Regions from separate parts of the Homo sapiens genome. Here regions 1, 2, 4, 5, 6 and 7 are each linked to region 3. The links come from fine-mapping of genetic effects on gene expression. A gene starts in region 3. Each other region holds a variant in brackets. All regions are shown on one strand. Distances are between the middles of the regions. Region 1 has its middle 37 kb from the start of CCDC66. Region 2 overlaps ARHGEF3 (Rho guanine nucleotide exchange factor 3). Region 3 holds the start of CCDC66 (coiled-coil domain containing 66). Region 4 has its middle 16 kb from the start of TASOR. Region 5 overlaps TASOR (transcription activation suppressor). Region 6 overlaps TASOR (transcription activation suppressor). Region 7 overlaps TASOR (transcription activation suppressor).

Region 1 (4,660 bases), 36 kb after region 3:
TACAGCAAGAGACTGGAGGTTTAGGGGCCTCTCCCCTTAGGCCACGGCTGAGCTTCCAGCAGGAGGCTACTGCCCGGGGATGCATGCATGAATGAAGACAGCTAAGCTGAGCACTCAGTGAGGGCAGAGATACCCTCTGCCACGGTCATTGCCGGCAACCTCAGCATCAAGCACTGTGGCTGGCAGAGGGCTGGCACTCAGTAAGCTTTTGTTACATGAATGAATAAAAATAAAAAGGGCTTTGAACAAGAGAAGAGAAAATTTGATCTCCCTGGATTTATAATCAGACAATTAAAAAAAATTTTTACTTTAATTCTGGGATATATGTGCTGAATATGCAGGTTTGTCACATAGGTATACATGTGCCTATGGTGGTTTGCTGCATCTATCAACATGTCATGTAGGTTTTAAGCCCCACATGCATTAGGTATTTGCCCTAATGCTCTCCCTCCCCTTACCCCCGACAGGCCCCTGGTGTGTGATGTTCCCCTCCCTGTATCCATGTGTTCTCATTGTTCAGTTCCCACTTATGAGTGAGAACATGCGGTGTTTGGTTTTCTGTTCCTGTGTTAGTTTGCTGAGGATGATGGTTTCCAGCTTCATCCATGTCCCCGCAAAGGACATGAACTCATTCTTTTTTATGGCTGCATATTATTCCATGCTGTTTATGTGCCACACTTTCTTTATCCAGTCTCTCATTGATGGGCATTTGGGTTGGTTCCAAGTCTTTGCTATTGCCATATGTGTGCATGTGTCTTTATAGTAGAATGATTTATAAATCCTTTGGGTATATATCCAGTAATGGGATTCATGGGTCAAATGGTATTTCTGGTTCTAGATCCTTGAGGAATCGCCACACTGTCTTCCACAATGGTTGAACTAATTGACACTCCCACCAACAGTGTAAAAGCGTTCTTATTTCTCCACATCCTCGCCAGCCATCTGTTGTTTCCAGACTTTTTAATGATCCCCATTCTAACTGGCATGAGATGGTATCTCATTGTGGTTTTGATTTGCATTTCTCTAATAACCAGTGATGATGAGCTTTTTTTCATATGTTTGTTGGCCGCATAAATGTCTTCTTTTGAGAAGTGTCTGTTCATAGACTATGAACAGAAGTGTCTGTTTATAGTCTGTTCAAAAAGTACCCACTTTTTGATGTTTGTTTTTTTTTTCTTGTAAATTTGTTTAAGTTCCCTGTAGATAAGCAGATGATTTTTTTTTTTTTTTTGAGATGGAGTCTCACTCTGTCTCCCAGGCTGGAGTGCAATGGCGTGATCTTGGCTCACTGCAACCTCCACCTCCTGGGTTTAAGCGATTATCCTGCCTCAGCCTCCTGAGGAGCTGGGATTACAGGTGTCCGCCACCGTGCCCAGCTAATTTTTGTATTTTTAGTAGAGACGGGGTTTCACCACGTTGGTCAGGCTGGTCTTGAACTCCTGACCTTGTGATCCGCCCACCTTGGCCTCCCAAAGTGCTGGGATTACAGGCATGAGCCACCGTGCCCGGCCGATAATCAGATGATTTTTAACAGCTCCTTTGATTAATTGGGTGATTCTGAGTTGCATTTGATATACTAAAGACCCAAGGCCCAATAAAAGCAGACAAAGAATTTGGGTTTCCAGATACCTCTGCCTTTTTTTTTTTTTTTTTTTTTTTTGAGATATAGCCCTAGGTGCCTCTTTGGTTATATTTAAAGTAAACTTTAATGCCTATTTAGTCAGCTCTCTGATTTAATTACAAATTCTTCTTGATTATGGGTTAAATTTTGACTTCATAAGATAATTTGAATTCTAGCTCTGTATACTTGGAAGTTATTATTTTGGGACACTTTACTAATTAAGAAAGGTTTCTGTATCTGGTAGGCATAAAGAAGGTTTTCCTGTATAGGTGATAGCAATTGAATTTCATCTCACTTGTCAATTTTAATGGATTGGTTTGTGTGGGGTGTTAGATTGAGAAGGATTCTGAGGCCAAGCCTGAGGTCTGTAGAGAACGTTACCATGCATGACAGATGATCAAGGTCTTCTTGGCTGACAGAGGCAGGAGGATAGAACATGTCCTTCATAATTTCTATCCCTGCTCCACAAACTATCATATGAGATCGAAAGTGCCTCTTCTGTGACCAGAGACTGAATGCAACCAAGATCTGCAAACCAGGGGAGTGATTAGTAGACACATCAACATAACTCCATCCTGAGGGAGTCATTTGTTGTTAGCTTGATGACAAATAGCCTGAAATGAAATTATTGAGG[G/A]AATCTGATTCCTTGTTAGAAAGATGAAGATGTAAATCAACACAAAATTGTGAAGTCCAAGAAGTCACTGAGAAGTGTTCCGGAGAAGGAGTCTTCTGGAAAGAAAGTTAATAAGCCTAGTAGAGTAAAAAATAGCCCAGGGATTGGTACCAGATAAACACGATTGTCATCAGCTGTGTGCCTTTGGATAACTCAGCCTTTCTTCCTGGGACTGCTTTCTCCTCTCTAAATATGGATACTAATACTTGCTCTGCAGACGATAACAAGTATATATAAAAAGGGCCTGGCGCAGAGAACAACTCCAGCGATAGCCATTTTCCCATAGAAGTGTAAATTGCTGGATATCTTTGGACATTTTCCTTTAGATTTGTTTCTTAACAAGTTTATATTTTAAACATTCTTTTGGGAACCTTTCTACTTTAGAAGATCCATGAGTGTCAGCTATTGCTGGCTTTATGAATATTTAAAGAAAGCAATATAACTCCCATGCAATAGTTGGCACTGGCAATTCAATGTAAGAGATAATCTAGAGTTAAGCTAAATTACCACTGTCTTTTGAATCTACTCGTATGTGTCCTCTGACTTGATCCAAGCTGTCTGTTGATGCTTCCACTGCCTAGTTCAAATAAACTTTGTCACCTCTTCAGCTGCCTTAGTAGCACAACATATAGATCAGAAGAAATTGCATCAAAATAACAGATACATAACTCAGAAAAGAGACAAACTCTGGGCTTAGGGAAAGATGGCGTTCTCAGCACTCTTTCACATGACTCTTGTAATTTCAGTTGCTCTTAGAAACAGATTTCTTTACATGGCAGTTGCTTTTTAAATCCAATTTATACTTACACTTATCTCCAGAGTTATCTCCAAAGGAGTTCTAGCAAAGAGAACTATGCAAACATTGTTTATTGGGTGGAACTGTTTTTCTAGATCCCTTTAGAATTTCAAATATGGAAATTTGGGTAGGAAAAGATCATTATCAAAATGGTACGTTTCCAAAGAGATTTTATCTTTATTTACTTGGATGTAGGAAAGCAGTCTACATATCCGCTTCTGTTTCCACATGGGAGAGAAAGTTGGGAAGCAAGTGAAATGTTTATCATTTGCCTACGGTTTTAAAATGTAAAAAATTTCCAGTTGGGCCTATGGAGGTAAAAGCTGCTTTATAAAAAATACATTTGGATACAGGAATATCTAAAATGTAGAATAGGACATTTGTGTATTGAATTATTGAGACAACCTGGAAAAATTTATCATGGAGAAAGTAAAAAGAAAACATACAGGTGCACACACACACACAAGCACTCACACACACACTGCTGATTGGTAAGAGAAATGGTGTGCATGCACATCTGGGAAAAGAAAGCTACATAGAAATATGAGATTTTAAAATTTCAAGAGTCATTTTATAGCACTTTCAGGCTTGGGAGGCAGTAGAGTTCCATGGTTATGACATTGGACTCTGTAGGCTGACAGATCTGGGTGCAAGTCTTAGCAACCTAGGAATATGGGTTTTGTTTTATTATTCTTCTCCCAACTCCAAGCTCTCTGATAGTTCTTTCTTTTCTTTTCTTCTTTCTTTCTTTTTCTTTCTTTCTTTCTCTTCCTTCCTTCCTTCCCTCCCTCCCACCTTTCTTTCTTTTCTTTCTTTCTTTCTTTCTTCTCTCTCTCTTTTCCTTCCTTCCTTCCTTCCCTCCCTACCACCTTTCTTTCTTTTCTCTTTCTTTCTTTCTTTCTTTCTTCTCTCTCTTTTCCTTCCTTCCTTCCCTCCCTCCCACATTTCTTTTTCTTTCTTTCTTTCTTTCTTTCTTTCTTTCTTTCTTTCTTTCTTTCTTTCTTTCTTTCTTTCTTTCTTCTTTCTCTCTTTTCCTTCCTTCCTTCCTTCCTTCCTTCCTTCCTTCCTTCCTTCCTTCACTCCTTCCTTCTTTCCTTCCTTCTTTTCTTTCCAGGGTCTCCCTCTTTCACCCAGGCTAGAGTGCAATGGCACCATCTCAGCTCACCACAGCCTCAACCTCCCGGGCTCAGGTGGTGATCCTGCCACCTCAGCTTCCCTAGTAGCTGGGACTACAGGTGGGTGCCACCACACCTGGCTAATTTTTTTGTATTTTTTGTAGAGATGGGGGTTTTACCATGTTGGCCAGGCTGGTCTTGAATTCTACATATTCTCAGACACCCACAGTTCATATTTAGTTTTTATGAATGAAATTAGCCACACTGTCAAATAATATTTCATATGGTCTGTTTGCATAGTGAAACCTTCTTTTTTCTTCTTGAGACTCAGTAGGAGACTTGCATTTGCCCCTTGTATTTGGTCACTTTTGTCTATGTTCAAGCCTCTCTAGGTGGATTAATTTTCATCTGTCCATATCGGAGTCTAAACTAAAAGACAGATGTTACAGTGGGGG
Region 2 (4,660 bases), 210 kb before region 3:
TGTTGTGGTTGGGCCTTTCCCCACAATTGTATTTCAGAGTTATGTGCCCCATCCAGACATACTCTCACGCGATTTTTTTCCTAAAATATCTATGGGCCTCCTGAGGAAACCAGCACATGATGTTAGCTGGAGGGCAACAGAGCCTAGTAGCTTCAACCAGGGTCGGCAAACTGCATTGGGTGGAGAAAATCCAGTTCACCACCTGTTTTTTTATGGCTCACAAGCTAAGCCTGATTTTTACTTTTTAAAATTCTTGGGGGAAAGTCAAAAGAATGGTGCTGTTTCGTGACACATGAAAACGACATGAAATTCAAATTTCAGTATCCATAAATAAAGTTTTGTTGGAACATAGCCATGCCCATCTGTTTATTGTCCATGGCTGCTTTGTACTATGGCATAATTGAGTAGTTGTGACAGAGACCATATTGCCCACAAAGCCAAAAATATTTACCATCTGGCCCTTTACATAAAATGTTTGCTGACCCTTGGCTTAGAATGAGGACCTAAGGACCTCGGAGTGGAAGTACCTTGGGTTCTAACCTCGGCTCACCTTGGGCAGGTGACTTAACATCTCTAGGTCTTGCTTTTATTTTTTATTAAAAAAATGTTTTTTCCATACTTCATCCTACAGATAGGTCTTGCTTCTATTCCATATCAGTAAATTTGCCATGATGCCACCAAACGTTCATGGAATCATTGTAAAGATTTACAAGACAGTGCATTTAAAGGGCATAGCATAACACCTTGGCCCTTAGTTAGCAATCATTAATCTTCAAATTCGTTAACTAAGTAGTAAATATTAGCTACTATGATAGTTTTTTAGTTAACAAGTAGTTATAGTTGTTCTTAAACTGTTGATGAAGTGTATCTTTTAAAGTGAACGTTGAGATTTATCCAAGCCCTTGGACCAATTTGATAATTATACAAATTTTCTTTTAGATTGAAGCCCACAAAAAATATGCCATGAAAAGGCTCACCTGGTTTAGCTGAGCAGCAGTCTTGAGTCTGCCATGTATTTGTCCTGAATGCTTTTGCTTGGCAATATTTTGTATCTCTGCTTTCTGAGTCTTTAAGAAAACTGGGGACCAGAACCCAAGGCATGCCTCATGCTGTGAAAATCCATGACTTGAGAACTGTTTGAGGTTCTCCCTCAGCCCTTTCTGTCCTTGCCTGCCTACCATACAGCCAATATGTCATGACTCCACATAGCCCAAGTGGTTCTTGCTACTTTCCCATAGATGCCCTTCCTCTCCATTGCTTTTCCCCTGCCCTGCCCGTTCCTCTGTTAACTCTGTTGCAGTTTCTCCTGAATGAATACCTCACGTAATTAGCTATAGGTTTGGGTCTGTTTCTCTCAGCACTTGGGCCGCTGGATCCCTGGTTAATACCCTGATCCCTTTTGTGGGAGAATGGAGGAAAGAGAAAATAAGGTCATCTGGGAGAGCAAGATGAAGGGCTTTGAAACTAGTGAAGAAGAATGTGTTTACCTTTTCTCCCTTGTGACCAGTTCTTCAGCCCTCTCGACAAGTTCATCGCAGGCATCCCCTGGAAGATTCATCACTGCCCTAGTCCCGCACATCTGGTCTCTCACTGAGTTACTGCTTTTTGAAAATTCTTCAGAATGTCTACTGCATTTCACCCTTTCCTCTCCATCCCAGTGGCTGTGGCTCAAGTTCACTCTGCAATTATTTCCTTCCTTGATTGTCAGACCTCCAAATTACCAGCCATCTCTTCCCATTATTGCTCCCAGGACAGTCCACCCTCTGCCCAGGAAGGCCCTCATTCATTCAGTCAGTGTTGAGTGAATCCTCATCAGGCATTAGGCTCTTCTTGCCCTCATATTGCTATGTTCCAGATATAACAGAATTGCCTTTTGGTAGGTTTGCTGCAGTGCTGTGTTCCCACATGGCAGTAATGAGCTAGACCTAGGCAGCCAGCCAACCATCACCTACAAATGTCCCCACCTCTCCCAATTGCCCTTCTAACACCTGGCCCTTTACTCTCTGTCATTGCCTTGCCTAGTTGGTAGGCTTTTTGTGTTTGTGCTCCTGGGCCTAGGAAGAGCACAATCTGTGCCTCCCACTACAGCCCAGCCCTGGCTGCTTTAAGATCTGTTACCATACCTTCAAAATCTTTCTTTTGGCTTCTCAGGCAAAATTTCTTTCTTCTGTTTCTGGGGTTCCTTCACAGGTAACAGTGCAGGAAACATTTGCTCACCTCAGAAATTTACATTGACCTAGAGAACTAGAACAGAAAGAAATCAAGCCATGTCTGAAATCCAGCAGACTGAGGCCAAGCAAGGATGA[G/A]AAAGCCAGACCCAAAGGAGGATCTGACATGTGGAAATTGGTTTTTAAAACCTCAAAGATTTTTTTGGCAAAATAATTTTTTTTTTTTTTTGAGATGGAGTTTCACCCTTGTTGCCTGGGCTGGAGTGCAGTGGCGCGATCTCAGCTCACCGCAACCTCCACCTCTCGGGTTCAAGCGATTCTCCTGCCTCAGCCTCTCAAATAGCTGGGATTACAGTCACCCACCACCACGCCTGGCTAATTTTTTGTATTTTTAGTAGAGATGGTGTTTCTCCATGTTGGCCAGACTGGTCTCAAACTCCTGACCTAAAGTGATCCACCTGCCTCGGCCTCCCAAAGTGCAAAATAAGTTTTTAAGTTAATTTTTTCAAATATTGTGATAAATAGCTTACTCTAAGCTTTATATATTGGCCAGAAACAACCCAGCAGAAACAGAAGAGTTATTCACAATGGTAATGTACATAGATATGGAGAGAATTGAGCGATGTGCTTATGTTTGAGAGTGTCCTTGGGGGGACAGTGAATGGAAATACACCCCTCAAGTTGTATGCAGAGTTAGCAGCCATGTTTGCAGAATGATCTGCAAAGCATGGAGAATGCCAGCTTGTCCCCACATGTCTTCTTGTAACTCACCTTGGTGCACACGGTGCAACTTCTATGGCATTATTTCCAGCCCTAGCATCTCAATAATAGTTTCCCTCACCAGCTAGACTGAGAGAAGGTGCCAATTTATATTTTATTTTATTTCATTTTATTTTAATTTAATTTAATTTAATTTAATTTAATTTAATTTTCGAGACAGAGTCTTGCTCTGTCACCCAGGCTGGAGTGCAGTGGCGTGATCGTGGCTCACCTCCACCTGCGCCTCCTGGGTTCAAGTGATTCTCCTGCCTCAGCCTCCCGAGTAGCTGGGATTACAGGTGCCCACCATCACACCTGGCTAATTTTTGTGTTTTTAGTAGAGACGGTTTCGCCATGTTGGCCAGGCTGGTCTCAGACTCCTGACCTTAGGTAATCCGCCAGCTCAGCCTCCCAAAGTGCTGGGATTACAGACATGAGCCACTGCACCTGGCTGGATGCTAATTTAATGTGGCCTGGGAGCAGTAAGGATGAGGGGGAAGAGCTGGCCCCAAAGGGGTGCTCAGTGGGCTCACTTCACATCCTCTCCGATTTTGTCTAAGTCTTGGTTCCCTTTCCAATAAGGGAGAAACAGAGAACAAAGAGTGTATCAGCTGCCCCAAACCTCTCAGCAGCCATCCATTACCCATATGTGTGTATTATTTATGCCTTTTCTATTCCAAAAATGACTCAAGGCTGTAATTGAGCAGCTTGGTTCTCTGTTGCAGTATTCCTTTTCCCTGGCTTCTGACACCTTAGAGACATATATATTCCTTTGGATATTCAATTATGTCTCTCAGGTTGGATTCTTTTAATTATAGAAGAGATGACTTAAGCCCAAATAAGGTGCTCTAATCAGTGCTGGAACACTTAGCAGACCTTCCTCTGGTTCCTCAGGAGACCACAAGTTAGCCCAGGAGGATATCAGGAGAGCTCTGGGCTGGCAGCCACTTCCAAAAATGTTAAAAGCCCAGTCACACATGTGAGTGGTCCTTGCAGCCACAGTTCAGCAAGACACTGCAGGATTTGTTCTCTCTTGCTTCCTGTGCCCATATGGGCTGGGGGCTTGCACCCCAACACAAAGGCAGCATTTGTGGACGCTGGGGAGGGACAGCCTGACTGCATGGCTCTCTATCTGCTTCTCACCAGGAAGGTTAGCACTGCCGGTAGACTCAAGCACAGATGTCTGGATCCCTCTGAGCCTATAAATTCCCTCCCTGGCCTGCCTGAGAGGAAAATCTGGCCCAGCTCTGAAAGGGGACCTCATGCGCTCCTCTGGTGTGGAGTGAGGAAGGCGAGCTCGCCTTTGGCCAGTCGCTCCCTGAGCCCTGCCTCTCCCTGTCCACAGCTGTTCACGGCTACTGGACTCATTTGAGCTGAGTTCAGCACATGCTATGGAATGTTGTGTTCATGATGTTGTGATGTAGCCCCTCATTCTCTTTGGACTTGCACTTTTTCCTTTTCCATTATAAAAGTGAATGTTCATTATGGAAAAATGCAGAAAAGGAGAAAGAGAAAAAGAACATGTATAGTCTTCCAACTCCAAAACAATCCATTAATAGTTTACCAGTTTCCCTCTAGCACTATTCTAGGCATAGGTGCAGAGCTCACGTACTCTGAGCCTAGTTTTGGGTTCCTCACAGTCTATTCAGCCTTATCTCTGTCTGGGTGATCTGCTCACTTTTAGGTTAAAGCCTCCCACAGTGACTGTGGATGATCAGTTTCTCTTGCATCTC
Region 3 (4,660 bases):
GTGTTGTAATCTGATTTTATTTGGCTAGAAGGAAATCTGCAGAAGTTTGAGGAAACAGCTTTTTCTAAAATATCATTTAAATATCACTCTATTACAAGCAAAAAGTCTGTTGAACTAATATAAATTTTATGTATGAATTTAAAAGTTAACATTTCAGATTTCTGTAACACAACATACCATATGGAGACAATATTAGCTTGGTTTTTCCATCCAGTAATTCAGTTTCAAGCTTTAAACCATCTCTGTAATAAAAAAAGAAAGTTGTCTCTCATTTTTAACAAACCGCAACATTTTAAATAACCAGAAATGTTCATTTGAACCTGACAATAAATCCATTATTTTGAATTTATGCAGGAATCTTGTACACATCGAACCAGTGTTTTAATTAAAAACGTTTGCAATCCAAGATAAAACCCACAACTACAGGGGGAAAATTCTTGAAACTCTTCAATACTACAAGCATTGTTATCATTAACCTGAAATCTCATTTTGTTATTGGTAAACTATAAATTAAGTTATCATACCACCATTTTTTAATAATGCTGTTACCAAAACTCCTCACATAAGTTAAAGGAACAAGATATATTTAACCGCCATTCATTAGTTTCATAATGAACTCATGACTAAAACATTCTATGGAGTGCTGGAGCATCGATATGACTACTAACAATGCCATCAAGGTTAGTAACTGCTTGAGCAAAGAGTACCACTTTCAATATTTCAAATAATACATAGTGATATTTAGTATGGTGCTTTATACGTGCATATCAGAAGCAAAGGCATAAAGTAACAGTAGCCACTGCCAACAAAACTTGAACGTCTGTTAAGGTCCTAAAACTCCACTGAGAACAAAAATGGCAGCCCATACATACAGTCCATAATTCAGAGAGAGAAAATTAAATCCAGCAAGCCAGTCAAGGGAGAGAGAGGCTGGGAAAGGTCTGATTAGGAATGCGAAATTTGCGGTGTTGCTCAGGTAGGGGAAATCAAATTACCTCACCTTAACTATTAAAGGTAAAACACTGGAAAGAATAGGTTTTACGGCTTTCCTTATTGTAGGGTTATGAACAGTTCGTGTTTATGTTGGTGAAACGTCACCAAGAAAGAAAAGAGCTTCAATGGTAAAGTACCTTCAATGACGCACTGCACTGTAATCTCCTTAAGGGACACACTATCTTATTTATTTCCATATCCCCAGATTCTAAAACATAATAACATTTGCTGAACGATGTGTAGTTAGGTCTGAGTTTGGTGGCTTCTCATCTTCTCAAAATATCAAACTTGCGAGTGATGAAGACCATGCACCAGCCCTTTTTATTTATTCACCCCTACTTAAGGAGCGCCTACTAGGTGTTAGGCACTGGTACTACATCGATTTCTTGAGAAGCCTGGTTCCCCGCCTCGTGGGCCTAAAACGAATTTGGGCGTTTCAACATTCTGCAAGACTCCAAAAACAAGGTGGCGAAGAACCCGGGGCATGGGCCAGGAGTCCTCCCCAGGAGCCGCCACGCTTCCTCTAACTGTCTCGTCATTTCTCTCCTTTCCTCCTCACCTCTCTTCCCTCCTCATCCTGAGGTAAATAAGGGACCGAAAGGGGATCACTGGCAGTTTTAATGCTAGTCATTAAGTGAAAACGTAAGGTCTGTGGAGTCGCTAAGGGCCGACCCATCTGCCTCGATCTTCTACCCGAGAACTGGGCTCTGCCCCTCTCGGCGGCGCAGGTTGGGAACGTTCTCCAGTAAAGACTCCAAGGGACAACCCAGACACACATGCCTCCCTCTCCGCTGACGACCACCTTGCTTACCCCAGCTTACCCCAGCTTACCCCTGCTTACCCCAAGTTCATGGCCTGACCTCGCACTCTCTCCACAGAACGCTCAAGCCCCTTGTGTACGTCGGTTGCCGCCGCCGCTCAGCAAGCGCTACGCCAATTGGATATAGGGGTGCCGGCGAGCTGAGCAAGTGGACCAATCAGGGTGGGGCATGCTGGCGGGTGCGCTGAGCTGGGCCGGGGCTCCCGCGGGGACGGTTGCGTATGCCGTTTGTTCCCCTTTTGTGCCCCGTTTGTGCCGTTTGTTCCCCTACGCACAGCGGAATTTGGCCTGACCCGGCTTATGAGTCTAAAGCTTCGGTGGCGGAGACCTGCGCTTCTCGCAATTGTAGCCTTCCAAAGCGCGTACACAGACACACACACACACACACACACACACACACACACACACACACACACACACACACACACACACCTTTTTGGGGTCACCATTTGCAAGTAAGTTACAGACATTGTAACACTTAACCCTTTAACATTGCAGACATTGTAACACTTAACCCTTTAACATTGCAGCATGTATCTCCTAAGAATAGATGTTCTGCTACATAACCGCAGTACAATTATTATACCTAAGATCATTAATTTCATAATAATTCTCTTCCCGATTTAATTTCCCCCACTTGTCCTAAGAATATCTTATAGGCATTTTATTTAGAAAGCAAGAGCCAATCGCGCCACTGCATTCCAGCAGCTTGGGCGACAGAGTGAGACTCCGTCTCAAAAAAAAAAAAAAAAAATGCAAGAGCCGATCAAGGATCACACATTACATTTGGTTGTTAAGTATCTTTGCACACACTCTTTCCAGACAAAAACAATGAAAGGTATTAATTATTAAATGCCTGACAAACCTTTACTTTTTTATTTTTTATTGTTGTAATATGTGTGTTAAAATTTGCTATTTTTAGCCATTTTCAAGTGACAATTCCATGATACAATGTTGTGGAATACGCCAGTATATTTTTCCAAAAGCTTTTTAGTACCCCCAAATAAAAATTCTGTACCCATTAAGCAACAACTTCCCATTTTCCTCTCCCCTCAATCCTAAGAAACCTCTAATCTTATTTCTGTCTCTAGGAATTTGCCTATTATAGATACTTCATGTCATAAAAGTGGAATCATACAATATTTGTCCTTTTGTGTCTTCTCTCAAGTAACATAATGTATTCAAGGTGCATCCATGTTGTAGGATGTATCAGAGCTTCATATCTGTTTATGATTGAATAGTATTCCATTCTATGTATATATATACCACAATTCGTTTACTCATTCATCCATTAATAGACATTTGGGTTGTTTCCATCTTTTAGTTATTGTGAATAATGCTGTAGTGAACACTGATGTACAAGTATCTGTTTGAATCCCTATTTTCAATTTTCTTGGTATACACCTAAGAGTGGAATTACTGGGTCACATGGTAATTCTATGGTTAACTTTTCGAGAAACTGCCAAACTGTTTTCATAACAGTTGCAGCATCTTACATTTCTGCCAGCAATGTATATGAGGTTCTAATTTCTTCACCCCAACACTTGCTTTTTCTTTTTCTTTTCTTTCTTTTTTTTTTTTTTTTAGAGACAGGGTTTTGCTCTGTCACCCAGGCCGCCTACATTGGTACGAACATAACACTGTAACCTCGAACTCCTGGTCTTAAATGATCCTCCTGTCTCAGCCTCCCAAGTAGCTAGGGCTACAGGCATGCACCACTACGCCTGGTTAATTTTTAAAAAAATTTTTGTAGAGACAGAGTCTGTTTACGTTGCCCAGGCTGGTCTCAAACTCCTGGCCTCAAGTAGTCCTCCCACCTCAGACTCCCAAAGTGCTGGGATTATAGGCGTGAGCCTGTAGCCAGAATGATTTCTAAAATGTGAATCTGCTTAATTCACTCTGCTTCTTAAAATCTCTCAATATAGGAGAACGTCCTTAACTTGATAAGCAATATCTACAAAAAATCTCCTAGAGACCGGGTGTGGTGGCTTATGCCTGTAATTGCAGCACTTTGGAAGGCCAAGGCAGGAGGATTGCTTGAGTGTAGGAGTTCGAGACCAGCCTGGGCAACATGGTGAGACTCTATCTCTATTTTTTAAAAAAATCCTGTAGAGCCCAATATCACACTTAACAGTGAAAAAGTGCAACTTTTCCACTGAGATTGGGAACAAGAGCAAGGCAAGAATGTCTCTTCTTATCACTGCTTTTCAACATCACACTGGAAGTCTGAGCTAATCCTAAGACTTAGCCTTAGTCCTAGCTAAGACAAGAAAAAGAAATAAGTATACAGACTGGGAAGAAAGAAAGAAAACTTTGTTTGCAGATGACATGATTGTCTATGTAGAAAATCTGAAAGAAGCCACAAAAAATCCTCCTGGAATTAATAAGTGAGTATAGTGGCATTGCAGAATGCAAGGTTAATACACAAAAGCCAATTGCTTTCCTGTATGTCAGCAATGAACAAATAGAAGCTGAAAATAAAAACACGATACTGCCCAGGCGCGGTGGCTCACGCCTATAATCCCAGCACTTTGGGAGGCTGAGGCGGGCGGATCACGAGGTCAGGAGATCGAGACTGTCCTGGCTAACACGGTGAAACCCCGTCTCTACTAAAAATACAAAAAATTAGCTGCGTGTGGTTGCAGACGCCTGTAGTCCCAGCTACTCAGGAGGCTGAGGCGGGAGAATGGCCTGAACCCAGGAGGTGGAGCTTGCAGTGAGCCGAGATCGCACCACTGCACTCCAGCCTGGGCAACAGAGAGAGACTCCGTCACAAAAACAAACAAACAAACAAACAATACTATTCACATTAGCATCCCATCAAATCAAATGCTTAGGTATAGATCT
Region 4 (4,660 bases), 140 kb before region 3:
TACTAAAAATACAAAAAAATTAGCTGGGCATGGTGGCGCGTGCCTGTAATCCCAGCTACTTGGGAGGTTGAGGCAGGAGAATCGCTTGAACCTGGCAAGCGGAGGTTCAGTGAGCCAAGATCGAGCCACTGCACTTCAGCCTGGCAACAGAGTGAGACTCCATCTCAAAACAACAACAACAACAACAACAAAAACACGTAACAAAACACCTGGCATCATCATTTTATGGTTTATTATTTGGTCCTTTCAGAAAGTTATAAATTACTGACATGTTAAAAAAAGAATGTGGTGGGGAGTGGGGGAAAAACAACAGCATCCTTTAGTAACTGTGATTACTAGTACTTTAGTAAAACCCATCTCTACTTCTTTCCTGCTTCTTTGAAATTCTCTCACACTGTAGTGCAACCTCAGTTTGTATCTAGGCTGACAATGACCAAGGATGGAGAAGTTCTAAGCCATCCTTACCTAGATTTTTGCAACAATGTCCTAAGTAGTTTTGTTGACTCCAATCCACCTAAAATCCACCTTCTATAACGAGAACCAGAATGCTCACACCTGTAATCAAGCACTTTGGGTTGCCAAGGTGGGAGGACTGCTTGAGCCCAGGGGTTCGAAACCAGCCTGATAACACAGGTAGACTCCCGTCTCTGCAAAAAATAAGAAAATTAGCTGGGTGTGGTGGCACACACCTGTGGTCCCAGCTACTCGGGGAGCTGAGGTAGGAGGATAGCTTGGGCCCTGGAAGTTTCGGCTGCAGTGATCTGTGATTGTGCCACTGCACTCCAGCCTGGGTGACCGAGTGAGACCCTAAGAAAGAAAGGAAGAAAGAAGGAAGGAAGGAAGGAAGGAGAAGGAATGAAGGAAGGAAGGAGAAGGAAGGAAGGAGAAAGAAAGGACAGGAAGAGAAAGAAAAAAGGAAAGAGAGAAAGAAATGAAAAGTTAAAAACAACAAAGAAACCCAGAATGATCTGTCTAAAATGCACGACTGATTGGGTCAGCTTCTACCTAAAATCCTTAACTTCTTATATTTTGCATCAGGATTAAATCCAAATCCCTTAATGTGGCATATGTTCTGTGATTCAGCTAGAGCCTTCAGACCAGCCCGCCTCTCCACTTGCCGCCTCATCCTGTATACCACAACAGCCAACTGTGCTTCCCTGCTGCAGAAACCTTTTTGTTTCTCACATTGGTATCTTTGTTCTTTTTTTCTCTCACCGTTTCTCTACCTGGAATTCCACTCATGCCATTGCCCTTCCTCTTCATCTCTGACATTCACTGACTCAGCTAGTCTCTACAAGATAGTCTTCTTCTCTTTTGCTAGTGTATTTACAAGCAGGAACTGTGTCTTATGTTTTATTCCCTGGGTCAGATATAGTTCTTAGCAAACACAAATTGTTCAAGAACTAATTGCTAAGTAATTGCATGTGTTTAGTAAGTGGGTGCCAGTGATGTCAATGTAGTAAGCTCCAGATTATCAGTGTCCCAGCATGAGGGTATGAGCATTCTCCTGTCTTTTGAATGTCTTAGGTTATTGTAGACAGACTGTAGTTAAAGGTACTTGAGGCTTTGAGACAGAATTGTATGCTATTTTGTCTTTTTTTTTTTTTTAATTGAGACGGAGTCTCACTCTGTTGCCCAGGCTGGAGTGCAGTGGCGTGATCTCGGTTCACTGCAACCTCCGCCTCCCAGGTTCAACCAATTCTTCTGCCTCAGCCTCCTAGGTAGCTGGGATTACAGGCACACACCACCACTTCCGGCTAATTTTTGTATTTTTAGTAGAGACAGGGATTTCACCATGTTGGTCAGGCTGGTCTCGAACTCCTGACCTCGTGATGGCCGCCTGCCTCAGCCTCCCAAAATGCTGGGATTACAGGCATGAGCCTCTGCGCCCAGGCTTTTACATTTAAAAGAATGTAAAACTTGCATTTGACCCCACTTCAAACTCCTTCAGGTAAGAAATAGATGTCTTAGTCAGTTTGGGCTGCTGTAACAGAGTACCATATTGCTGGTGGCTTATAAACAACAAACACTTATTTCTCACAGTTCTAGAGGGTGGGAAGTTTGACATCAAGGCACTGGCAGATCCAGTGTCTGGTGAGGAACCACTCCCTCATTCGTGGACAGCCATCTTTCCACTGCGTCCTCACATGGCTAAAGGGGTAAAGGGGCTCTCTGAAGTCTGTTTTATAAAGACGCTAATCCCATGCATGAGGGCTCCACCCTCATGACCTAGTTACCTCCCAAAGGTCCTACTTCTTTATCTGACAATTATCAAGGATGGTGAAATCCTAAGAGTTTCAACATATGAATTTGGGTGGGACATAAAAATTTAGTCTGTAGCACTAGGGAAGTGGAATTTTGCTTATTATCAGGCTGGGCATGGTGGCTCACACCTGGAATCCCAGCACTTTGGGAGGCCAAGGTAGGCAGATCACTTGAACCCAGGAGTTCCAGACCAACCTGGGCAATATTGCACAATCCCATCTCTACAAAAAATACAAATTAGCCCGGGTGGTGGTGCATGCCTGTGGTCCCAGCTACTTGGGAGGCTGAGGTGGGAGGATCACCTGAGCCAGAGATGTCAAGGCTGCAGTGAGCTGTGATCTCACCACTGCACTCCAGCCTGGGTGGAAAAAAAAAAAAAAAAAAATATATATATATATATATA[TACACAC/C]ACACACACACACACACACACACACACATACACACACACACATATATACACATATATATATACATATATAGTATCTTTATACTTATTTAGTATAAGAGATTTGGAACGACTTTGACAAAATTAAATATCTTACGTTGCTTATTATATTTCTAGTAAACAGAAATTCAACAAAGGGCCATAGGACTTGTAATAACAGATTGATTAAGAGAGTGAAGAGTTCTTTAGCACTGAAAGAAAGGAGAGCATTGGCGGGTGCGGTGGCTCACACCTGTAATCCCAGCACTTTGGGAGGCTGAGGCAGGTGGATCACCTGATGTCAGGAGTTCGAGACCAGCCTGGCCAACATAGTGAAACCCCGTCTCTACTAAAACTACAAAAATCAGCAGGGTGTGGTGGCGCACACCTGTAGTCCCAGACTCGGGAGGCTGAGGCAGGAGAATCACTTGAACCCAAGAGGCAGAGGTTGCAGTGAGCCGAGATCATGCCATTGCACTCCAGCCTGGGCGACAAGAGTAAAACTCCATCTCAAAAAAAAAAAAAAAAAAGAAAGAGAAAGAAAGGAAGGAAGGAAGGAAGGAAGGAGAGCATCATCTGGTGAGTGTTAACTACTCCACATCTCTAACAGGAATGTGGATAAGCATCTTCTAAAGGAATTATGGATTTATACTATTTCAATACTATTTTTATCAAGGAAATGTATATGAATAGTATTTTATTTTTAATATATATTTTTTGTTGTTGCTAAGTAAGCAAAACTGATTTTTTGGACCATTATTATCATATATTCTGTCTCTAGAGCAACTCAGATTCTCAAGAGAATGGACTAATCACCAAATGGCACAAACTGCAAGTAGAATTCCTCTAGATAAGTAACTGAACACCACATTTTCTTCAATTAGATAAATGTCTGGTGTTATGTTTCTATAATTTATGTAAATTGCAACCATAGACCTACCAATTACCCTATTTAAACTTGGCTGGTTCCCCAAAGATTTCTTAGGAAAAAACTTATTATTAATTGCCTATCTTTTCAGAGCCACTGGGCCGGGGGTGGGGGAAGGGTAGGGTACTGAAACTTGAACTCGTATTTTTTGTAAAGCTCTATTTTTGAGAATCTCTTTTAACTGGAATGTTTTACATTAAATGAAAAAATAATTGGGAAAAAATATTTTTTTCACTTGGGAGTATTATGGGGAAGGACATTTGAAATGAGGCATTTAAAGCCAAACCATTATCTAACTTTTTGTTTCCAAGAGTTGAAATGGAACTTTTTGGGGAAAAGAATCTGGAATATTTAATGTTGTTAAGTCACTGGGCTTTAGGTTTAATGTTCTTTTTGAAGAGGGTTAATGTGAATTAACTCTAATACGAATCATTAAAATATAAAAACCAGGAAAAGAGCCAGGCACGGTAACTCACGCCTGGAATCCCAGCACTTTGGGAGGCCGAGGCGGGTGGATCACCTGAGGTTGGGAGTTCGAGACCAGCCTGACCAACATGGAGAAACCCTGTCTCTACTAAAAATACAAAATTAGCCAGGCGTGGTAGCGCATGCCTGTAATCCTAGCTACTCTGGGGGCTGAGGCAGGAGAATCACTTGAACCTGGGAAGTGGAGGTTGCAGTGAGCTGAGATGGCGCCATTGCACTCCAGCCTGGGCAACAAGAGTGAAACTCCATCTCAAAAAAAAAAAAAAAAAAAAAAAAATCAGGAAAAGACACAGCTAGCACTTTTGCTACTCACATATTCACATCATGGCTGGATATAGACATGCATAAGGTGGAGGGTCCAATGCCAATTGCTGGTGCTTTAATTGACCCAGGCCATATCCCATTGTAATCTTTGCGTTATCTTGCTATTATTGTATTGGTCAAATTTAGAATTTTTTCTTTTCTTTTTTTGGTGGGGGCAGGTGGAGAGAAAACAGGAAATGATTTACTCAGTTCTTTCTACACAATTAACATAAATTTAAGCATAGTTGCCTGTC
Region 5 (4,000 bases), 79 kb before region 3:
TAGTTCTTCTGATTGTAAAACTAATTTCTGCAGGTAGATTAAATAAGATTAAGAAACTTGGATTTCAGAAACAGTTGCAGATATTATTGATTAGCTAGTTGGCAGTGGGTACCTAGGAGATAATCTTTGTCTGATCTTGGTGGATTCAACTTCTCTGCAGATGGTCATAGGCATTGTTTTCTTGTTTACAGTTTGGTGGTGATCTTTTTTATATTTTCCTTCAGTTTTGTTGTATCTGACTCTTTTCAGAAATTAAAGTGTTGTTTTTTTATTTGTAAGAAATGTGAAATGACTACATCTTTGTAGTTATTTATTTCCTTTGGGAGTTCCCCTCCCCCGCTAATTAAAGTTACTAGTTTCCTTGAAGAAAATCTTCACCATCTCCTTCTAGGAAAATGTGGTTAAAAAAAAAAAGAAACCATGAACAACAGATATATAACATAGAGGAAAGTTCACAAATCTTTTTTTTTTTCCCCTCTGATACAGAATCTCTCTCTGTCACCCAGGCTGGAGTGCAATGGCATGATCTTGGTTCACTGCAACCTCTGCCTCCTGGGTTAAGCGATTCTCCTGCCTCAGCCTCCCAAGTAGCTGGGATTACAGGCATGTGCCACCGCACCCGGCTGATTTTTGTAGTTTTAGTAGAGACAGGGTTTCACCTTGTCGGCCAGGCTAGTCTCGAACTCCTGACCTCAAGTGAGCCACTGAACCTGGCCACAGATCTTTATTGTACAGCTTTTTGAAATTTTACATATGTACATGACCATCACCCAAATCAAGATGTAGAACGTTTCTAGCATCCCAGAAGATTTTCTTCCACATTCTCCTAGTTAGTACTCTCCTTGTTCCCAAGTAAGTGCTAATCTGATTAGTTTTGCCTGTTGTTGAACTTAGGATAAATAGAGCCTACTCATGTCGTCTCTCGTGTTTGGTACTTTCATGCAATATCGTGTCAGGGAGTCCATGTTTTGCATCTATCAGTAATTCTTTTCTGATTTCGGGGTTTTACCATGTTGGCCAGGATGGTCTCAATCTCTTGACCTCGTGATCTGCCCACCTTGGCCTCCCAAAGTGTTGGGATTACAGGTGTGAGCCACTGTGCCCGGCTAGTAGTTATCTTTCTTATGCTTCAGAATGTTCCATCAGCACCTGCATTCCTCTTATTTGGAAATACCATCTTTATATTTTGTAAGCTAAAGTGTAGACATCTGAATGATGGTGCCTTTAGAGAACTGACTACTCCCCTTTCACTTAAAAGTTAAAATACTGCAATTATTTAATGGCAATAAGTTTTTTTTTAAAAAAGCACGGTGTCTCATGTTTGTAATCCCAGCACTTTGGGAGGCCAAGGTGTGCGGATCAGGAGGTCAAGACATCGAGACCATCCTGGCCAACATGGTAAAACCCTGTCTACTAAAAATAAAAAAATTAGCTGAGCATGGTGGCTTGAGCCTGTAGTCGCAGCTACTCGGGAGGCTGAGGCAGGAGAATTGTTTGAACCTGGGAGGTGGAGGTTGCAGTGAGCCGAGATCTCACCACTGCACTCCAGCCTGGTGGCAGAGCGAGTCTCTGTCTCAACAACAACAACAACAACACCACCACCACCACCA[A/C]CAACAAAAGCTTTATTATGGATTGACATGTATGTGTGTTTTCAATCACTTATAGATGAAGATATTTTCAAAATAATTAAGTTTTGTTTTTTTTTTCTATTTTTTTTTGCAACAGAATCTTGCTCTGTTGCCCAGGCAGGCTGGAGTGCAGTGGTGCAATCTTGGCTCACTGCAGCCTCTGCTTCCTGAGTAGCTGAGATTACAGGTGCTCGCCACCACGCCTGGCTAATTTTTGTATTTTTTTTTTTAGTAGAGACGAGGTTTCACCATGTTGGCCAGGCTGGTCTCGAACTCCTGACCTCAGGTGATCTGCCTGCCTTGGCCTCCCAAAGTGCTGGGATTACAGGCATGAGCCACTGTGCCTGAGCAGTTAAGTTCTTAATAAAATCATACAGGGAAATTTGTGCAAAATAAAATTAGGTTGTGATTATTTATATTTTATAAAGGGATCTATTTGGTTTAGAGGTTTTTAATTATGGAAAATTCTCCATGTGGATTTAATTTATATTTCAGGTTAAAAATATTCCCTTTATTTATAACCCTTGAGGAGTAAACTTACTGGTTGTTGTTTAGCTATACATTTTGGGAGCCACTGTTGCATTTAAAGTAATAAATAGCTGGGTGTGGTGGTATGTACCTGTAATCCCATCTACTTGGAAGACTGAGGCAGGAGGAATTGAGGCCAGAAATTCAGGGCCAGTCTGGGAAACATAGTGAGGCCCCATGTCTAATAAATAATTCAGAATTTTTTAAATTAAGGTAGTTCTTCGCAACCCATATGTTTTATGAGATGCAATTCAATTTTTTTTCTTTGAATATATCAGATATTTGACATGATACGTAATTCAAGAAGTCCAAAAATACTTAAGAAAGTAATACTGCCCCAGCCCGGAACACTTAGATTCTTCCCCATATATTAGCCATGGTTACCAATTTCTCGTGTATCCTTCCAGACACTTTATGTGTACTAAAGCACATTTTAATGTTGGAGATTTAAGATACTCAGGATATTTAGTACTCCTAATTATCTTATGAAACTTGGATTTTCTGGTTTATCAATTTCATACAGTTCTAATTCTTATCCTGGCACGTTGGATATTTTGTTCCCCTCTCACCTCCGCCTACAGACCCGCCTTGGGTCTTTTCACTGTGCTGACAAATTGCCTTTGCAATAGTTAATGAGTGTACTGGTTCATGATAACCACCAGGATTGGTAGAGAATGTCATAAGCTCGACTCCTAGTGAGGCTATTTAAACCTTTAGAAAAGTGTGATGAGTGTGAGCAAAATCTTCACTGTAAGTTTGAAAACTACCTGTACCTGGACTTTCTGATTTAGAGGCACCATTTCCTATACTACAGCAGCAATTTGTTAGGGAATGTTGGCCAAGGCTTAAAGAAAAACAGTAATTTTTTAGCGGGTAAAATTGTGTATACGTCTTCTAAGCAAAGATCATGAGTTTTTGTCCTTTCCTAAAATATAACACTAAAATTGAAGTTAAATATATTTTTCCCCTTGTTGCTTAAAAATGGAATTAGAGTTCCCTTTTTCAAATGTAGTTTCAAAAACATACTGTGTTTGAATTTAGGATTTTTTTGGGGAAAGTATGATCTTTTGGATTGAGCTGTTTGTCAAGAGTGAAAGGTTTTAATCTCATTAGTATCAGCTAACCTTAGTATCAGCTAACATCTGTATCTCAAATGAGGTATAGCTATCTTTTCTTTTAGAATTATTTCCAAACAAAAGGAAAATATTTATGAAAGGACTGTCAAAAATGTGCAGCTGTGAAATATGTTCTTCTCTTGTCTTATTATTGTTCCTTTTATTTCCTGATAAAATGAAGTCCCTGACATTACAGGAAATCTACTTAGCAACCTCGTAAGTGAGAACAAGTCTGAAAGCAGATAAAATTAATTATCCTAGATCCTAGATGCAACTTTTAACTTGGCAGTTATTCCCACAGCATTTCTGTTTGGTATTCTTACAATTGCCTTACACTCAGAATTCTTACTAAGGGGCCATTACCATAGTAGATATTACTTGGCAAATAATAAATACAGGGATTGAGCAAGCTGATGTAATTGACTGTCTTGATTTAAAATGTGTATTAAACTTAGATCTACAGAATGGTAGGGAGGCAGAAACAAGCAAATGACTTAATTTGTATTGATGCCAAATTGGTGCTTGCTTGAGCGCTTCAAAATAGCAGAGTTGTTAACACTAGCTACAACTCTAAGGACCATCCCATAAGTAGGGCACATAGGGAATAGAATTCATACCAGAATTTTAGGATTTTATTTTACCTTCTAATATATAATTAGTTCTAAATGTGTGTTAACCCTTTTTTCCCCCAATTTAAGGGTTTGTGTTTTCATATCTTATCTTTTTGGA
Region 6 (4,000 bases), 120 kb before region 3:
AAAAATTCAAAAACAGTGCAGGTTCTGTTGCATTCATATTTTAATATGGTAGACCTTTTCTTGTGACTGTGCTTTTCCAGTGAAATTTAAGATTAGGACTTAAATATTTTAATACCTTAAAGGTCACTGCTATGCAAATACAACTTGACTCAGAAAGTTCTTTTTTTGGTCTTCCCAGTAGTGTGACATCCAAAATAACTGCCATTGTAATTGAGTAATAATATTGGCAAACACTTGTATAGTGCCTAATAAGTTGTGGGCATTGTTCTAAGCAATTTACATACATTGACTAAATCTCAACAATGTTTTGTGGTAGGTACTATTCCCATTTTACAGATGAGGAGACTAAAGTACTGAGAAGTTAGGTAACTTGCTTCAGGTCACACAGCTAAGTTGTGGAGATGGAATTTGAAGGTAGTTGTAGAGTACTTTTACTACTATAAAAAAGAAAAATCTTGCTACCCAGTTTGAATAATCTAAGGGTTTAAGTTAGCTGCTTTTGACCTGACCTGTTAGTAACAAAAACTGTTCCCCCCCTTCATTAAATATAGAAATATTTAGTATGTTTTCATCCTTGGGGAATTTTGACATTCAGAAATTATGTTTACTATCAACATTTGGTTGGTACTGACATACTAAGTGCGTCTTTGACTGGAAAGGTATACATTTTACTGTTTTTGATGTATGTTATTTATTGGCTGAGGCATGATTCTTACATTTAACCAAATTATAGAATTTAACCAAATTGTAGAATTGCATTTTGTTGGTAGATGTTTCACTATTGCCTTCTTTAAATCTAGTGAGTCATAAAAAGTAAATTAAAATTGGTAATTGCATTTGATGTAATTTTTCCCTCCAAAGTTCTTGGGAAATGGAGTAGCGATGATTCACTTTCTGGAAAACGTTTATTGGTTAATGTTTTTGTAGGGTCCAAGGGAGTCTCAAAAATTAATTGCGCTCATGCACTAAATTTCCATACTGGTTTAGTCCAGAAGTAATGGCTAATTCTCCTAACCTCCATCTTCCCCCACAAAATTTTCACTTGCCTTTTTGAAGTCATTGGAGCCAAGTCTCATTCTTAAGGAAATTTCCATGGTATTTCATTAGTTGTATATGGATGAGTGGGTTCTGAGAACAATAGCTCTCTCCATACATAATAGCAAAGTAATCAAGGTAAAATTTACTTTGAGCTATCCTCAGTCCAAAAAACTTTGTTTCGTATTTGTACTCTTGATTCCTGCCAGCATATTCATTTCTAATTGTACACTATGTTCAACCTTGTTGATGTAGAGATGAAGTACCCACTCCTAAAGTATTGTCTGTGGTAATTTTTTTTAGAATGAAGAAAAGTGATTTTAAAAAAAGATCTTACTGTGAAGAACAAATGGATGGAGAGTGGTTGTATTATAATCATTAATAGGCGTCAGCTGTGAATTCAGAAAATTTCAGATCCTCAGCCTCTTCTTGCTAATTATTTCGTCATCTTCTATGTATTAGTTACTTTAAATCAGACAATTGTTTATTTGTACTTCGTATGACCCATTTGTATGTCTTTTTTTTTTTTTTTTTT[G/TG]GAGTCAGAGCCTCTGTTGCCCAGGCTGGGATGCAGTGTTGCGATCCCGGCTGACTGCAGCCTCTGCATCCTAGGTTCAAAGGATTCTCCTTCCTTAGCCTCCCCCAGTAGTTCGGATTACAGGCATGTGCCACCACGCCCAGCTAATTTTTGTATTCTCCTTAGAGGTGGGATTTTGCCATGTTGGCCAGGCTGGTCTGGAACTCCTGACCTGAAGTGATCCGCCCTCCTTGGCCTCCCAAAGTGCTGGGATTACAGGCATGAGCCGCCACGCCCAGCCCCATTTGTATGTTTTGATAGGAATGATATGTCTTTTAAGTTTAGCTTTTTTAAATTTATGTATATATGATAATATTTTTTGTGATACATGTATACATAATACAAAAAGATCTGCCTTAACACCAAACAAATTGGTAAAACTAATTGATGAAGATGTTCTTTTGATTAAGGAACAAAGCTGTTTGATGACCTAAATTATATATCAATGCCCACTGCCTTTATAAATACAACCTTCAAATCTTGAGTGTGGGCTGGGCATGGTGGATCATGTCTGTAATCCCAGCACTTTGAGAGGCCGAGGTGGGCGAATCACGAGGTCAGGAGTTTGAGACCAGCCTGGCCAACGTGGTGAAACCCTGACTCTATTAAAAATACAAAAAATTAGCTGGGCCTGGTGGTGGGTGCCTGAAATCCCAGCTGCTCGGGAGGCTGAGGCAGGAGAATAGCTTGAACCCAGGAGGTGGAAGTTGCAGTGAGCCAAGATCGCGCCACTGCACTCCAGCCCGGGCAACAGTGCAGAACTCCATCTCAAAAAAAAAAAAAAAAAAAAAATCATAAGTGTGTTTTGTATGATACTAGTAATAAAAAATATTTGATGATAGTATGGCTAAGAGTCAGGAAATTTGAATTCCAGTTGAAATTCTATGATACTATCAGTTTCCTCGTTTGAATTATAAATCTCTAAGTGCCCTTGTAAATCTGCTCTTCAGTCTCGTAAAATACATCTATAATTTGTAAGTAGGGAAACCTTGTGTGATCAGTAATCAACTTAGCTGTTCTTCTGACAGGCATTTAATGGAAATCGATCAAATAAGCAAAATTACACATTTCTTAATGTGTGAAAGAACTTCTATTGCTACTGCTGTTAACCTTTATAAAACAAAGGGTGTTACGACTCTTGGCCCTGTTGTCTCTAGAGGAAAATTAAAATCAGAAAAAATTAAGAAATTTGAGAGAAGATAGGAAGGTAGAAAGAGCAGTATTAGAACGAAATTCTTTGTTCTTTTATATTAACTTCCTGTGTCTAAGTGTTGTATATGATTTCTAGTCTATAAAGTGAGGAAACAGTCATTTTTCCAGCTCTTGACATGATTGGACATTGTATGTCTAATACCCATATGCACACACACATCATATATTTCAGGATACAAGAAAGGGAGCTTAACCACTTGAATTTGAATCCCAGCAGCTTGATTCATTCATTAACCCTGTAACCTTGGGCCAACTCAAAAGGCTACTTGTCTCAGTTTCAATTGAGAAACGGGCATGTTGAACTTCATAGTGTAGTTTTGATGATTGAGATGATATATGTAAAGCTCTTAGTACAGTATTGAAGGTGGTACTTAACCACTAATGGTTAGACAGTAACTGTCAATCTAGAGAACAGTGTATTGAATACTGAGTTCCCTGAGTGAAATGGATAATTCATATACATAATGCTTTCCCTATTTGGATAGACACAGGGTTGTTTATTATTACTACCTCAAATAGTGACCCATAATTGAGATTTTTGACTTAAATATTTTCTTTAAAAGGAGTGACAGGATACATTGATCGAGATACATGTAGTGTTAAATGACCTCTGAGGACATAAAATAGACTACCAGAAAATGTACATTCAGAACATGAACTTAATAAATTTTCTGAACTGCTGTTAGCAGCAAGTTGACTTGAAATCCTTAAAAATAGTTGCAGGATAATTTTATTATCTTAGAAATTATCACCAGAAAAAATGAGAAATTATAACCGGCCTAACGAAGCCACTGAGGCATTTGCAATACAAAATAATTAGGATACAGATATTTATTGTTAAAGCTAAAATGCTTTTTCCTTTTCATTTGCAATAATTTTTTTCCTGTCAGCTGTCATTTTTAGTACATTGGACATGACTTGGACATTGCTTTAGAGTCAACTGGAAATGTTAAGTACTTTGAGAATAATTTGGATGTGAACTTTTATGCAGATTCATGATTTGACTAATTTTTTACTTACGATTAGATTAATGGTAGAAATTGTATTGGGTAGCTTAACTAATGAAAATTTCTTTTATGTAGACTAACATTTCATAGAAATTGGCAGCCATGTGATACCTTTTTTTGTGTACATTTTATATATCTGAAGTCATTTTGTTTAGAAACAAAATCGTGTAAA
Region 7 (4,000 bases), 96 kb before region 3:
ATGAATGAGATTGACCTGAAATTTTCCTTTCTTATACCATCTCTGCCTTTTTTTTTTGAGACAGAGTTTCGCTCTTGTCTCCCAGGCCAGAGTGCAGTGGCACAATCTCAGCTCACTGCAACCTCTGCCTCCCGGGTTCAAGGGATTCTCCTGCCTCAGCCTCCCAAGTAGCTGGGATTACAGGCATGCTCCATGACACCTGGCTAATTTTTGTATTTTTAGTAGAGACAGGGTTTCATCATGTTGCCCAGATTGGTCTCAAACTCCTGGGCTCAAGTGATCTGCCTGCCTCGGCCTCCCGTAGTGCTGGGATTACCAGGGTGAGTCACCAAGCCTGGCCAACTTTTACTTTTTTGAGACTTGTTTTGCTATTTCTGTCTTTAAGTCAGAAAAATAGTCAATAAATACTCAGTTGTAAGTAGTGCTTTAGTTGCATTTCACGTTTTAATGTGCAGTATTTTCATTATTCATTTCTAAGAAATTTTTATTTTTTAGTTTCCAATTTTTTTTTAACTTTGATATATGATGTAGAGGTATGTGTATAGGGAAACAGGGATACTTTTGTCTTTTTTATTTCTAATTTAATTGCATTGTAATCAACAATGGTGGTGATTATTTGAAATTTGTTGAGACTAAGATCTACTGTGTGGTCAATTTTTGTACATGCTCCTTCTGTGTTTGAGAAAAATGTATAATCTATAATCATTGGGTGCTGGGTACACAATTCTGGGTTGACAGCTATTTTCTTGCACTTTGACTATGCTGCAGTGTCTTATGGCTTCTATTTTTGTTTAGGGGTTAGCTCTCAGTCTAATTGTTCCTTTGTAGGTCCCCTGCCGCCCCCTGGCTACTTTTTAAATCTTTTTTTTTTTTGGTCTTTGATGTTTAGCAGTTACAGTATCTAGGTGTAGATTTCTATTTATCCAGCTTGGTATATCTTTTCCTTTCATATCTGTGGATTTGTGTCTTTTTTTCTGGAAAATTAGTTATCTCTTTTATTGTACTTCTCCCTCATTTTCTTTAGCTTGTCTTTTCTTTTTTTTTTTTTTTTTTTTTTTTTTTGAGATGGAGTCTCACTCTGTTGCCCAGGCTGGTGTGCAGTGGCATGATCTTGGCTGACTGCAACCTCCACCTCCCGGGTTCAAGCAGTTCTCCTGTTTCAGCCTCCCGAGTAGCTGGGGTTGTAGGTGTGTGCCACCACACCTGGCTAATTTTCGTGTATTTAGTAGAGACAGGGTTTCGCCATGTTGGCCAGTGGTTGTGAACTCCTGACCTCAGGTGATCCACTGGCCTCGGCCTCCCAAAGTGCTGGGATTACAGGCGTGAGCCACTGCGCCCGGCCTGGCCTGTCTTTTTAGGACTCTGAAGAGGCATATTTTCCACGTCTGTTAACCTTGTCTATGTTTTCCATCTATTTGTTTCTCTGTGCTGCATTCTAAGTAACTTCATCATAACTATCTTCTAGTTTAAAAATCCTGTATTTAGCTGTGTCTTATTTGTTGCTTTATTTATTTATTGTGTTTTTAATTTCACAGGGAATGTTTTTTATTTTTAAAAGTTACATTTGAATTTTTTTGGATCTGCCTGGTTATTTTATAGCAGGTTCTTGTTAAGTCTTTCAGAAGTATTTAGTGAGTACCTATCATACGCCAGGCAGAGTTCTAGGAGGTGCACATTATATTCCGGTATTCTTTGCCTATATTTTTTAAGTGAAATAAAATTCACATAACATAAAATTAACCATTTTAGCCATTTTTTTTTTTTTTTTAAATAGGCAGGGTCTTGCTTTGTCATCCAGGCTGGAGTGCAGTGGTGTGATCCTGGCTCACTGCACCCTCGACTTTCTGGGGTCCAGTGATCCTCTTACCTCATCCTCCTGGGTAGCTGGGGCTACAGGTGCGTACCACCACACCTGCCTGATTTTTGTATGTTTTGTAGAGACAGGGTTTTGCCATATTGCCTGGGCTGTTCTTGAACTTGGCCTCCCAGAGTGCTGGGATTACAGGTGTGCACCACCGTGCCC[A/G]GCCATTTTAGCCATTTTAAAGTATATAATTCTATGTTTTTTTTAAAAGTAGATTCACACTGTTGTGCAACATCAACACTATCTAATTCCCGAACATTTTCATCTCAGAATTCACTGTACATTCCCCCTTCCTAATCCCTAACAGCCATTAATCTACTTCTGTCTCTATGGATTTATCTGCTCTGAACATTTTATATAAATAGAGTCAAGAATATGTGGCGTTCGGTGCCTGGCTTCTTTCACTAAGCATAATTTTCAAGGCTCATTGATGTTGTAGCATATATCAGAACTTCATTCTGTTTTATGGCCCAGTATGCTTTCATTGTGTAGATAATACCACATTTTGTTTGTTCTTTTATCAGTTATTTCTATTTCTTGGCTACTATGAATAATGGTGCTATGAACATTAGCGTAAACATTTTTGCTTGAAAATGTTTTTAATTCTTCCAATTATTTTATGTCTTTAAAGATTTCATAGTGGATTATTTTCCTTTTTGCATCTGATAATTCCAATTTTTGATGCCTTTGAGTGTTTGAATCTTTTTTTTTCTGCTGAATCTCACTTTAGTGTAGCTTATTTCCTTCTAAGCTTTTTTTTTTTGAGACAGGACTCTCTGTTGCCTAGGCTGAGGTGCTATAGTGCGTGGCACAATCACAGCTTCACAGCTTGAACTCTCAGGATCAGGCAATTCTCCCACCTTAGCTTTCCAAGTAGCCAGGACTATAGGCATATGACGCCACACATGACAACTTTTAAAATTTTTTTTGTAGAGTTGGGGTCTTGCTGTGTTGCCAAGGTTGGTCTTCAACTCCTGGCTTCAAGCAATCCTCCTCCCACTTCGACTTCCCAAAGTGCTGAGATTACAGGCATGAGCCACTGCGCCTGGCCCATTGTACATGTATTTATACTAACTCTTTTTTTGTGGGGGTGGGGGAGTGCTATAATACCTTTAATGTTATCTGGAAATTTAAAATAGTAGAATAAACTAATTTAAAAACCCCAGAGATTGGATTAATATCTTTTTTTTTTTTTAAGAATAACCAAACAGCTAAAATAGAGACAACAGGAGCACAATTTGCAGGATTTTTCTTTTCTGCAGAGTTGAATGGATTTCATTGGGCTGAAGCCACAGATATAACTGCTGAAGCCTCTGTCAGCCTTAGTGTTGTTTCTGATCATAGATTGCTTGTACTCCATGGATTTCTGGAAACATTGGGCCCCCTTAAAATACAGGAATCTTTAGGTTACTGGTAGTGGAATTTATAAAACCTAGTATTTGGAGTGAGTGAGAGGTTAAAGGCATCTAATTGGTTTTCGTCAGTGAGCACAAAACATGAAAATCTTGTGCTTCGTAACTTTTTATTTCATCAACTAGGAGTTTGAACAAAATATTAAAAGAAGTATATTATCTAAAATACTTTGGATAAAAGTATTTGAAACAAAATTTTCAGGTACATTGTCCGCTTGTAGTATACTCTAAGAGACTTAGCGTGGCTATAAATGGTAGCCGTAAGACCCAGTTAAATATCTTGCAGGGCCAATACTATATGTCAGCAGTATGATGTAACTTGGCCTGAGGATTTTTAACCTTGGCCCTGGGATTTTTAGGAAACAAGGCCACCTCAGCACAGATTAACTATTAGAAACCTTACAACAAAGTTTACCCTTACAAGAATATTTGAACTTCCTTTATAAAAGAAAGACCTGATAACTGACCCTCATGGAATCCAGGCAGTAAAAATGGGGAAAGATTCCCCAAAGTTTAGAATGGTCTTCAGATGGACCTAGTCATTTGGTCATCTGACCCCATGACTTTATCTGTCCCATACCACCAGCCTGCTTCCACTAAAATAACCTCCTTGAGTACCAGGTATCTAAGACTCATTTTTGGCACAGATTGAACTGAAGGAGAAGTTGACCCTGGAGAAAGTGGTCAACTAAGCTACCTGAAACCCCCAAACACAATACCACTTTAC

What was found. PIP is the estimated chance that this variant, and not a neighbour inherited with it, causes the effect.
Region 1: its variant is fine-mapped to the expression of CCDC66 in whole blood (TOPMed, PIP above 0.99).
Region 2: its variant is fine-mapped to the expression of CCDC66 in whole blood (TOPMed, PIP above 0.99).
Region 4: its variant is fine-mapped to the expression of CCDC66 in whole blood (INTERVAL, PIP above 0.99).
Region 5: its variant is fine-mapped to the expression of CCDC66 in whole blood (INTERVAL, PIP above 0.99).
Region 6: its variant is fine-mapped to the expression of CCDC66 in whole blood (INTERVAL, PIP above 0.99).
Region 7: its variant is fine-mapped to the expression of CCDC66 in skeletal muscle (GTEx, PIP above 0.99).

Annotation. Positions count from the first base shown.
Region 1 is chr3:56,517,977-56,522,636 of GRCh38, reverse strand. No RefSeq gene overlaps it. Among named protein-coding and RNA genes, the nearest start is that of CCDC66, 37 kb to the left of the region's middle. The variant G/A (reference allele first, on the strand shown) is at 2,256.
Region 2 is chr3:56,768,851-56,773,510 of GRCh38, reverse strand. The region is part of intron 2 of ARHGEF3 (Rho guanine nucleotide exchange factor 3); the gene reads left to right. Among named protein-coding and RNA genes, the nearest start is that of ARHGEF3, 31 kb to the left of the region's middle. The variant G/A (reference allele first, on the strand shown) is at 2,307.
Region 3 is chr3:56,554,428-56,559,087 of GRCh38, reverse strand. It overlaps CCDC66 (coiled-coil domain containing 66), which reads right to left and starts at 1,913. Exons shown (of 18, transcript NM_001141947.3): 1 at 1,835-1,913; 2 at 178-242. The coding sequence starts at 1,845. RefSeq lists enhancers at 1,498-1,657, 1,126-1,797, 1,798-2,470.
Region 4 is chr3:56,696,865-56,701,524 of GRCh38, reverse strand. No RefSeq gene overlaps it. Among named protein-coding and RNA genes, the nearest start is that of TASOR, 16 kb to the right of the region's middle. The variant TACACAC/C (reference allele first, on the strand shown) is at 2,669.
Region 5 is chr3:56,634,000-56,637,999 of GRCh38, reverse strand. All of the region lies in intron 17 of TASOR (transcription activation suppressor), which reads left to right. Among named protein-coding and RNA genes, the nearest start is that of TASOR, 47 kb to the left of the region's middle. The variant A/C (reference allele first, on the strand shown) is at 1,611.
Region 6 is chr3:56,676,579-56,680,578 of GRCh38, reverse strand. All of the region lies in intron 1 of TASOR (transcription activation suppressor), which reads left to right. Among named protein-coding and RNA genes, the nearest start is that of TASOR, 4.7 kb to the left of the region's middle. The variant G/TG (reference allele first, on the strand shown) is at 1,571.
Region 7 is chr3:56,650,325-56,654,324 of GRCh38, reverse strand. All of the region lies in intron 11 of TASOR (transcription activation suppressor), which reads left to right. Among named protein-coding and RNA genes, the nearest start is that of TASOR, 31 kb to the left of the region's middle. The variant A/G (reference allele first, on the strand shown) is at 2,024.